Linked DNA regions of Homo sapiens: regions 2 and 3 are each linked to region 1. Evidence: fine-mapped expression QTL. A gene starts in region 1. Each other region holds a variant in brackets. All regions are shown on one strand. Distances are between the middles of the regions.

Region 1 (2,500 bases):
CCAGGAGGGGCAATCCAGTGACTGGCAGATCCTTTCTGGGGAGTGTTTCTAGAAGGGACCGTGGGTCTGGACAAGCCATAACAGGAAGTAGCCAAGCTGGGCAAGGGCTTCCCCAGCCCAGGCCTAACTACTGCCCATCGATCCAGGCAGAAGGCGGGGTTAGAGACTGCCCTGGGAGATTGGGGGTCTGGGTCCCCTCTGATGAGAGCTCTGGTCTCTCCCTATAAACACACACTCCTATCACAGACACACACATAACACACATGCACATAAATCCACATCAAGCATGCACACACATCCATCATACACACATACGACACACACATGCACCCCTGCACACACACACTACGCTTACATATACCTTTGTGGGATGTAGAGCCATTCCTCCAGAAGCCCATCCATGTACCCCAGATGAAACCACCCAACACCAATTCTTACCTTGTTACATATGGTGAAATCAAGGCATAGACCGAAGTGCTGTGGTTAAGAGCTGTTACTCTCCGAAGTCAGGCGATCTGGGTACAAATCCTGGCTCTGCCAAACCCCTGCCACGGTGCTTTAGGTAAATGACAGCTCCTTTCTGTGGCTTAGTTTCTCCACCTGTAAAATGAGAATAAGAACAGACTCTGCACTTATGGGGTCAGCCCAGATCTCCTCCTAGGGAGACTGCGAGTGCCTGGGCCTCAGTTTTCTCTTCTGTAAAATGGGGATATTGTGCCCAGTTCGAGCAGAGTGGCTTGAAGAGTCACCTGAGATAGGATGTGAAGTGGCCGCGGTGAGGTGCCCAATACACGTGGCGCGCACTGCTCAGGAAGCTTTCCTTGGAGGGCTGGATCCCGCAAAGGTGTCGAAAAAGGATGAGTCCCGGATATCATTCGCTCAGGTGAGGTGGGTTCGGGTCCCGGCTGCGTCTGGGACCGTGGCCCGGGCCTCAGTTTCCCAGTCTACAGCCCGTGGGAGGACACCTCGGAGCTGGCACCCCGCCCCCAAAAGGGCCCCGCGGCGCAGGGCGTGGGGCTCAGGTGGACACCTGGCGGGCCTCCTGGCGGGGGCGCCCTGGCCGCCCGGGCCCCTCCGGGCTCCTTCCGGGTTGGCAGCGGCGGCGCAGGGGGCGGGGGGCAGCGCAGAGGGGCCGGGCGAGGCCGGGAGCGCGCGCCCCCGCCCCCGCCCGCCCGCCTCCTGCCCGCCCTCCGGCCGCGGAGCTGGAAACCGGGCTCCGCGCGTCCGGGGCGGCTGGCGGCGCGGGCAGGCAGGCGGGGAGGACAGGCTGGGGGCGGCGACCGCGAGGGGCCGCGCGCGGAGGGCGCCTGGTGCAGCATGGGCGGCCCGCGGGCTTGGGCGCTGCTCTGCCTCGGGCTCCTGCTCCCGGGAGGCGGCGCTGCGTGGAGCATCGGGGCAGCTCCGTTCTCCGGACGCAGGTAAGAGCTCCCGGCGCCTTTGCACCCCGCTGGCCGAGGGTCCCGGCGCGCACACGCCCCCACCTCCAGGAAGGGCTGGGATTGGAGGGCGATCCAGTCCCCAGCCCGGGTGAGGGCAGGGACACGGCCATCCCGCGGTCCGGCTGAGGCTCCCGCGAGTGCGGGGTCCCCTACTCCATGTGTCGGAGCTGGCTGCCTCCCCTACTCCCTCCCTTTCAACCCAGGAGCTCGAGAGGAGGGGGAAGGGGCGCAACGAGGGCGAAGCCCTGGCCCTTCTGTTCCCCTGTCCCTAGGGCCCCTCCCCCTGCACTTGGGAAAGGCCTATGACACCCCCTAGCCGACTCTTCTCGGACCCTCTCTCCCCTTTTCCCTGTTCCTGTTTTTTTGCTTTGTTTTGTTTTTTGTTTGTTTGTTTTGTACCCAGGCTATTTATCTCCCTCGGAGGAGGGACTGGGGTGGAGTCTCACAGCCCAGTGGGTCAGTGTCGGAGATACCCCAGGGACCTGGCATTTTGGACAGAGAAAAGAGGGAGCACAGTCTTCCTTCTGCTCTCCTAGCGGCGGGGAACCTCCTCCCTGCTGGCCTTTACGGAGGAGCTCCCAGAACCTGACATGGTGGGGCCCATTATTATATATAGTGTCCTCATCAATCCTTGAAGGACCGAATGAGGTAGGGAAAACTGTCCCCATTCAACGGTTAAGCAAACTGAGACCCTAGGGAATTGGCATCATCTTTTAGCCTCATGGGCTATTCACTGAAGAGCTAGGTTGCAAATCTGCCCTTCTATCCTTGATGACAGTGTTTGAACCTGTCCTGGCCTCTGTCCTGGCTGCAGCCCCAGCGAGGGTCCCCTCCTAAAGGCCAGCCGCCGTTGTCCAAGGCAGACAATGTGGAGTAGCCAGGCCTCTCCAGGCCTTTTCATCCCATTCAAAGGCCTGCGCGGCCCCCACCCCCTACGGCCTCAATTCTTTAATTCTTTTCAGAAATTCTCCTTTCCCAGTGGTCAGGGGCCAGCATGCCCCTGCTGGGCTAGCAAGAGCAGTTGACATGGGCAGGGCTGGAGGACGGAGGTGGTTGAAGCA
Region 2 (2,842 bases), 29 kb before region 1:
TTGCATACTCTGAAGATTAAAGGTAGTTTCTGTTGCCTGCTTTTCTTTTTCTTATGTCTGGTCACACTTTCCTGCTTTTTTTTTTTCATGTCTCATAAATGGTTGTTAACCACTGGACATTTTAGAGAATATACTGTAGCACTCTAAACACTGAACTCTCACATTCTGGGGCTCTTTTTTGTTTGCTTATTTGTTTAGTGACTTAGCTGGACTATTTTAGCGAAGTCTATTTCTCCTAAGTATGCAGCTTCTGATTTTACTCCTCAGAGAAAGCAGCCTTGGGCATGACCGGGGTCACCCTAGGTGACAGTGGTTTTAGCAGGGGTCTCTTTGTCTCTTTTTATGATTTCTCTGTCAAGCTGTCTGGCTTTGTTGGAATCGTACCCAGCTATTATCCTCCATTGATAACTAATTGCTCTATTGTTTTCAACAGTGCCCTGGGGTAGAAATTGCTCCACATGTGATTCAATTAAATTCAGGCCCTTTTGCAAAGGTACTCTTTGAGGCCAGTCTTTGAGGTTTGTTACAACTCCAGGAGCGTTCTTCTCAGTAGCTACTCTATAGTTTAGTTTGTTAATCTGACAAGCTACTAGCCTCCTCATAATTGCTTGCCACCAAAATTGCTTACCATCAAAATCTCCATTGCTTTTCCCCTTAAGCTGGAACTCCTCCACACTCAGTTCCAAAGGAAGTCAGTTCCCTTAAGATCCCTCTGTTCTTACAGCCTGCCACTTTCTGGGCAAAACCTCTGCACAACTGCTCTGGAGGTAGGGAGAATGGGCCCCCTTCTCAGAGAATAACACACGTGCTTTATGAACAGGCTGCTGGATGGGGCAGTAGCTTCTGATCTTCTTGGCTTGCTACTTATGTTATGGAACCTCTACCCTATGAATGAGCTGGGGCAAATGCAACCAGGCATTTTTTTGGCCTGCTGCACCTAAGGTAGAGCTTCCACCTTACAGAGTGGGGCTGGGTAGAGGAGGAGAACCCCAGAACTCTCAGCCACTCTTGCCTAGAATGGAGTATCTACAACACAGGACGTGGTGGATGAGAAATGCTGATGTCCTGCCCTTCCTAGGGAGATACTCTAGCTCCCCAGCTGAGACTGAGGAGAGGGAGACCTGTGTTCTTGGCTGCATCCACCTGGAGTAGAACATCCATCTCGCTGAGCTGGGGGGACGGGGAAGGGAGAGAATGGGCCATGGCTCAAATGCCACAGGCTCTCACTGTTCTACTGTTCTGAGATTAAATAGATTCTTT[T/C]TTCTTCTTCTTTTTTTTTTTTTTTTTTTTTTTTGAGACAGTCTTGCTCTGTTGCCCAGGCTGGAGTGCAGTGGGGTGATCTCGGCTCACTGCCACCTCTGCCTCCTGGGTTCAAGCGATTCTTCTGCCTCAGCCTCCCGAGTAGTTGGGACTACAAGCGCGTGCCACTATGCCCGGCTAATTTTTTTGTATTTTTAATAGAGACCGGGTTTCACCACATTCGCCAGGCTCGTCTCGAACTCCTGACCTCATGATCCGCCTGCCTCAGCCTCCCAAAGTGCTGGAATTACAGGCGTGAGCCACTGCGCCAGGCCGATTTTCTTTTTTTTCTTTCTTTCTTTTTTTTTTTTTTTTTTTGAGATGGAGTCTCACTCTGTTGCCCAGGCTGGAGTGCAATGGCACGATCTCTGCTCACTGCAAGCTCCACCTCCCGGGTTCACACCGTTCTCCTGCCTCAGCCTCCCGAGTAGCTGGGACTACAGGCACCCACTACCACGCCTGGCTAATTTTTTTGTATTTTTAGTAGAGACGGGGTTTCACCATGTTCGCCAGGATGGTCTCAATCTCCTGACCTCATGATCCGCCTGCCTGAGCCTCCCAAAGTGCTGGGATTACAGGTGTGAGCCACTGCGCCCGGCCCCAGCCGATTTTCTTGAATAAATGTTTCATTTGCTGTGTGACCTCAGGACAATTTCCAGAGACTTTAAATGGTTGTTTTTTCATATAATATTTACCAGTTATAGTTATTTCTCTGGGCAGAGGGTAGGTGGAGCTCCTCACACCACTATACCAGAAGTTGTCTCTGAATATGTAATAGTCATTTGCTACATAATGACATTTCCGTCAATGATGGACCACATATACAATAGTGATCCCATAAGATTATAATTCTGGGGCAGGTGCAGTGGCTTATGCCTGTAATCCCAGCACTTTGGGAGGCCAGGGCAGGTGGGTAGCTTGAGCCCAGGAGTTCAAGACCAGCCTGGGCAACATGGCAAAACCCCATCTCTACAAAAAAATTTTTTAAAATTAGCCAGGCATAGTGGCTTGTGCTTGTGGTCCCAGCTACATGGGAGGCTGAGATGAGAGGATGGCTTGAGCCCAGGAGGCGGAGGTTGCAGTGAGCTGAGATCGTGCCACTGCACTCCAGCCTGGGCAACAGAGTAAGATCCTGTCTCAAAAAAAAAAAAATTATAATACTGTATTTTTACTGTACCTTTTCTACGTTTTGATGCACAAATACCACTGTGATACAGTTACCTATGGTATTCAGTACAGTCACATGCTGTACAGATTTGTAGCCTAGGGGAAATAGGCTACACCACATAGCCTAGGTGTGTAGTAGGCTATCTCAGCTAGGTTCGCGTGAGTGCACTCTGTCATGTTCACACAATGATGAAATCAAATCAAATCACATTTCTCAGAACATATCCCCATCGTTAAGTGACTCATGACTATTTATTAATAAATAATACAGTAGTCCCCCTTTATCTGGAGTTTCACTTCTTACGGTTTTGGCTACCCATAGTATAGTAAAAGAAAACAGAGAGAGACCACATTCATATAACTTTTATTACAGTAT
Region 3 (2,500 bases), 27 kb after region 1:
AGGGCTGCCAGGAGCCATAGAGAGTGTGAGGGTCCCGCTGCTTCCCCGAAATGGTAGATGCTGGTTGGGGGGCTGGGGCCAGGGTGGGGGTCAAGAGCAGATGTGGAGCTGCCAGTCTGATATGCTTTACCCCCCAGACCAAGTCGGTGCTTGGGGGCTTCCCGGGCCCACCGGCCCCAAGGGAGATGCCGGCAGTCGGGGCCCAATGGGGATGAGAGGCCCACCAGGTGAGTGCCCGCAATGCTGCCCCACAGCTCCTCTGGCCATCCCCTCCACCAGGTGGGCCCTTCCCTGCTCCTGACATGGCCAGGATGACCTGGGCCCTTTCATCTACTTGCCTCTTCACTCAGCACCCCACCACGGAGTGCCCTGCCCACGCCTGGGCTCCATGAAGTCCTCTCTTATGTTCACTGACCCACATTCCCTGGGCACCTACACTTATCAGGCTCTGAGCTGGGCACTGGGTGGGGTCAGACATGTCCCTGCCCTTCTGGAGCTTCCATGCTGCTGGGAGCAGGGCTGGGCAGAGGAGAAGCAGCAATGCTTGCCCCATGTGACCAGGGTTTCTATGAGGGGTTTTGGGGGTTTGGGAGCCCCAAGGAAGGAAGACTCAGCCTGGACGAGGTGGAGAACTAGGTGCTGTGCTCATCCCCCTGTTAGACTACCAGGCAGCCTAGGCCTGTGGACTCCGGGGCCCTCTCTCATGCCCACTGCTCCAGGCTGCCTTGTCCTGTCGCTCAAGGCCACCCTGGGCCTCCTTGCCTCCTGTATACCCACAAATCCGTGTGATTCCATTGCAGGTCCACAGGGCCCCCCAGGGAGCCCTGGCCGGGCTGGAGCTGTGGGCACCCCTGGAGAGAGGGGACCTCCTGGGCCACCAGGGCCTCCTGGCCCCCCTGGGCCCCCAGCCCCTGTTGGGCCACCCCATGCCCGGATCTCCCAGCATGGTGAGTCCCCCTGGGATCCCAGCAGGTGGAGGTGGGGGTGGAGTAGCCATCAGCACAGTGCCCGCTACCATCTGCCACGTGCCTTCTGTGTGCCAGCCCTGCTCACGATAGGCCACATGTGACCCAGTCCTCCAGCAGGCGCCGTTGTCCTCCTGTGGTTACAGGTGAGGAACACTGAGGACCAGAGAGGGAAGGTGGCTTGCCAGGGTCCCACAGCCTGGGCGTAGGGGAACGGCTTCAAACCCAGGCTGCCTCCAGAACCTGTGCTTAGAGCCACCGGGCATCAGGCCCTCCCAAGCCTTGGAACTGGCTGGAATCCAGTTCTCGGAACACTGGGACGCAAAAGACC[C/T]GGCGGCAGGAAGTGAGTCCTGAACTCCCAAGGCCACAGGCCCGGCCCCTCCTCCAGGCCCTGACGTGCGTCCTTGGCTTCTTCCCTTTGGCAGCCCAGCCTGACCTGCCCATGGGCTGCCAGGGGTCAGAGTGTGGAGCGCCAGGTTTCAGCCTCTTCTCCACTGTGTTTTTGGTGCACAACCCAGCACACCATTCATTCATTCTGCCATCCCAGCATTCATTCCATCTCACTATCCATACGATGGGGACAATGACAGTGCCAGCCTCCCAGAGCTGCGTAACATCCATGTACAGAAGCCTGGCACACAGTAGGTGGTGGATAAATGGTATCTTTTATTGTCATTCCCATTTGACAGGTGACAGTACAGGCTCTGAAAAGTAGAAAGTGTTGCTGGATGTCACCAGCTGGATTGCAGTGGGGTTAGAACCCACATCTCCCTGCCTCCTGGTCTTGCGGGACCAACACTCTCCACACTCCTCACCCTGGAGCAGGTGCCCAGGTGGTACCAGCCATGCTGCAGGCTGCCCCATAGGGCAGTCCAAGCTGTCTTGGCAGAGGTGGCAGGTGAAGACTAACCACCCCACTCTACCCAGCTCTACTCACTCATCATCTTTGCTCACCCAGGAGACCCATTGCTGTCCAACACCTTCACTGAGACCAACAACCACTGGCCCCAGGGACCCACTGGGCCTCCAGGCCCTCCAGGGCCCATGGGTAAGTTGAGTCCAGGCCAGGGGTAAAGGGTGAAGTTGGTAGATGGCAGAGGGAATAGGGTTTGTGGCTATCAGGAGGGAGCTGATGGGGCACTTCCTGAGATTGTACTTTGTTCCGGCCCTTAGGACATCCTGTCTTTTTCCAGGTCCCCCTGGGCCTCCTGGCCCCACAGGTGTCCCTGGGAGTCCTGGTCACATAGTGAGTAGTTCTCCTTGTACTCTCACCCATGTGTCTGTCCATCTTTCCATCTATGCATACATCCATACATCTGTCCATCATCCACCCTTGTATCCATCTATCCATCCATCCATTCATCCTTCCATTCATTCATTCAACAAGTATTTATTGAGCACTTAATATGCAAACTACCTTCCATAAATCTTATTCAATCCAAGTAATGAGAACCATGTGTGGTTATCACCTAAGACCAAGAAAAGTAGAGATTCTTGTGCCAGCACATGGCAATGAGCTGTGGTGGGACTGTCTG

The links. PIP is the estimated chance that this variant, and not a neighbour inherited with it, causes the effect. A credible set is the group of variants that fine-mapping cannot tell apart.
Region 2: its variant is the best candidate, but not a certain one, in a credible set for the expression of EMID1 in tibial nerve (GTEx, PIP 0.58).
Region 3: its variant is the best candidate, but not a certain one, in a credible set for the expression of EMID1 in pancreas (GTEx, PIP 0.56).

Annotation. Positions count from the first base shown.
Region 1 is chr22:29,204,722-29,207,221 of GRCh38, forward strand. EMID1 (EMI domain containing 1) reads left to right here and starts at 1,175. Exons shown (of 15, transcript NM_133455.4): 1 at 1,175-1,418. The coding sequence starts at 1,318. LOC101929638 (a long non-coding RNA gene) reads right to left here and starts at 1,111. Exons shown (of 5, transcript XR_938134.3): 1 at 750-1,111; 2 at 439-600. RefSeq lists silencers at 1,270-1,359, 1,370-1,529, 1,550-1,609.
Region 2 is chr22:29,175,917-29,178,758 of GRCh38, forward strand. No RefSeq gene overlaps it. Among named protein-coding and RNA genes, the nearest start is that of EMID1, 29 kb to the right of the region's middle. The variant T/C (reference allele first, on the strand shown) is at 1,261.
Region 3 is chr22:29,231,456-29,233,955 of GRCh38, forward strand. It overlaps EMID1 (EMI domain containing 1), which reads left to right. Exons shown (of 15, transcript NM_133455.4): 7 at 138-227; 8 at 801-947; 9 at 1,924-2,013; 10 at 2,159-2,211. Among named protein-coding and RNA genes, the nearest start is that of EMID1, 27 kb to the left of the region's middle. RefSeq lists an enhancer at 2,190-2,500. The variant C/T (reference allele first, on the strand shown) is at 1,297.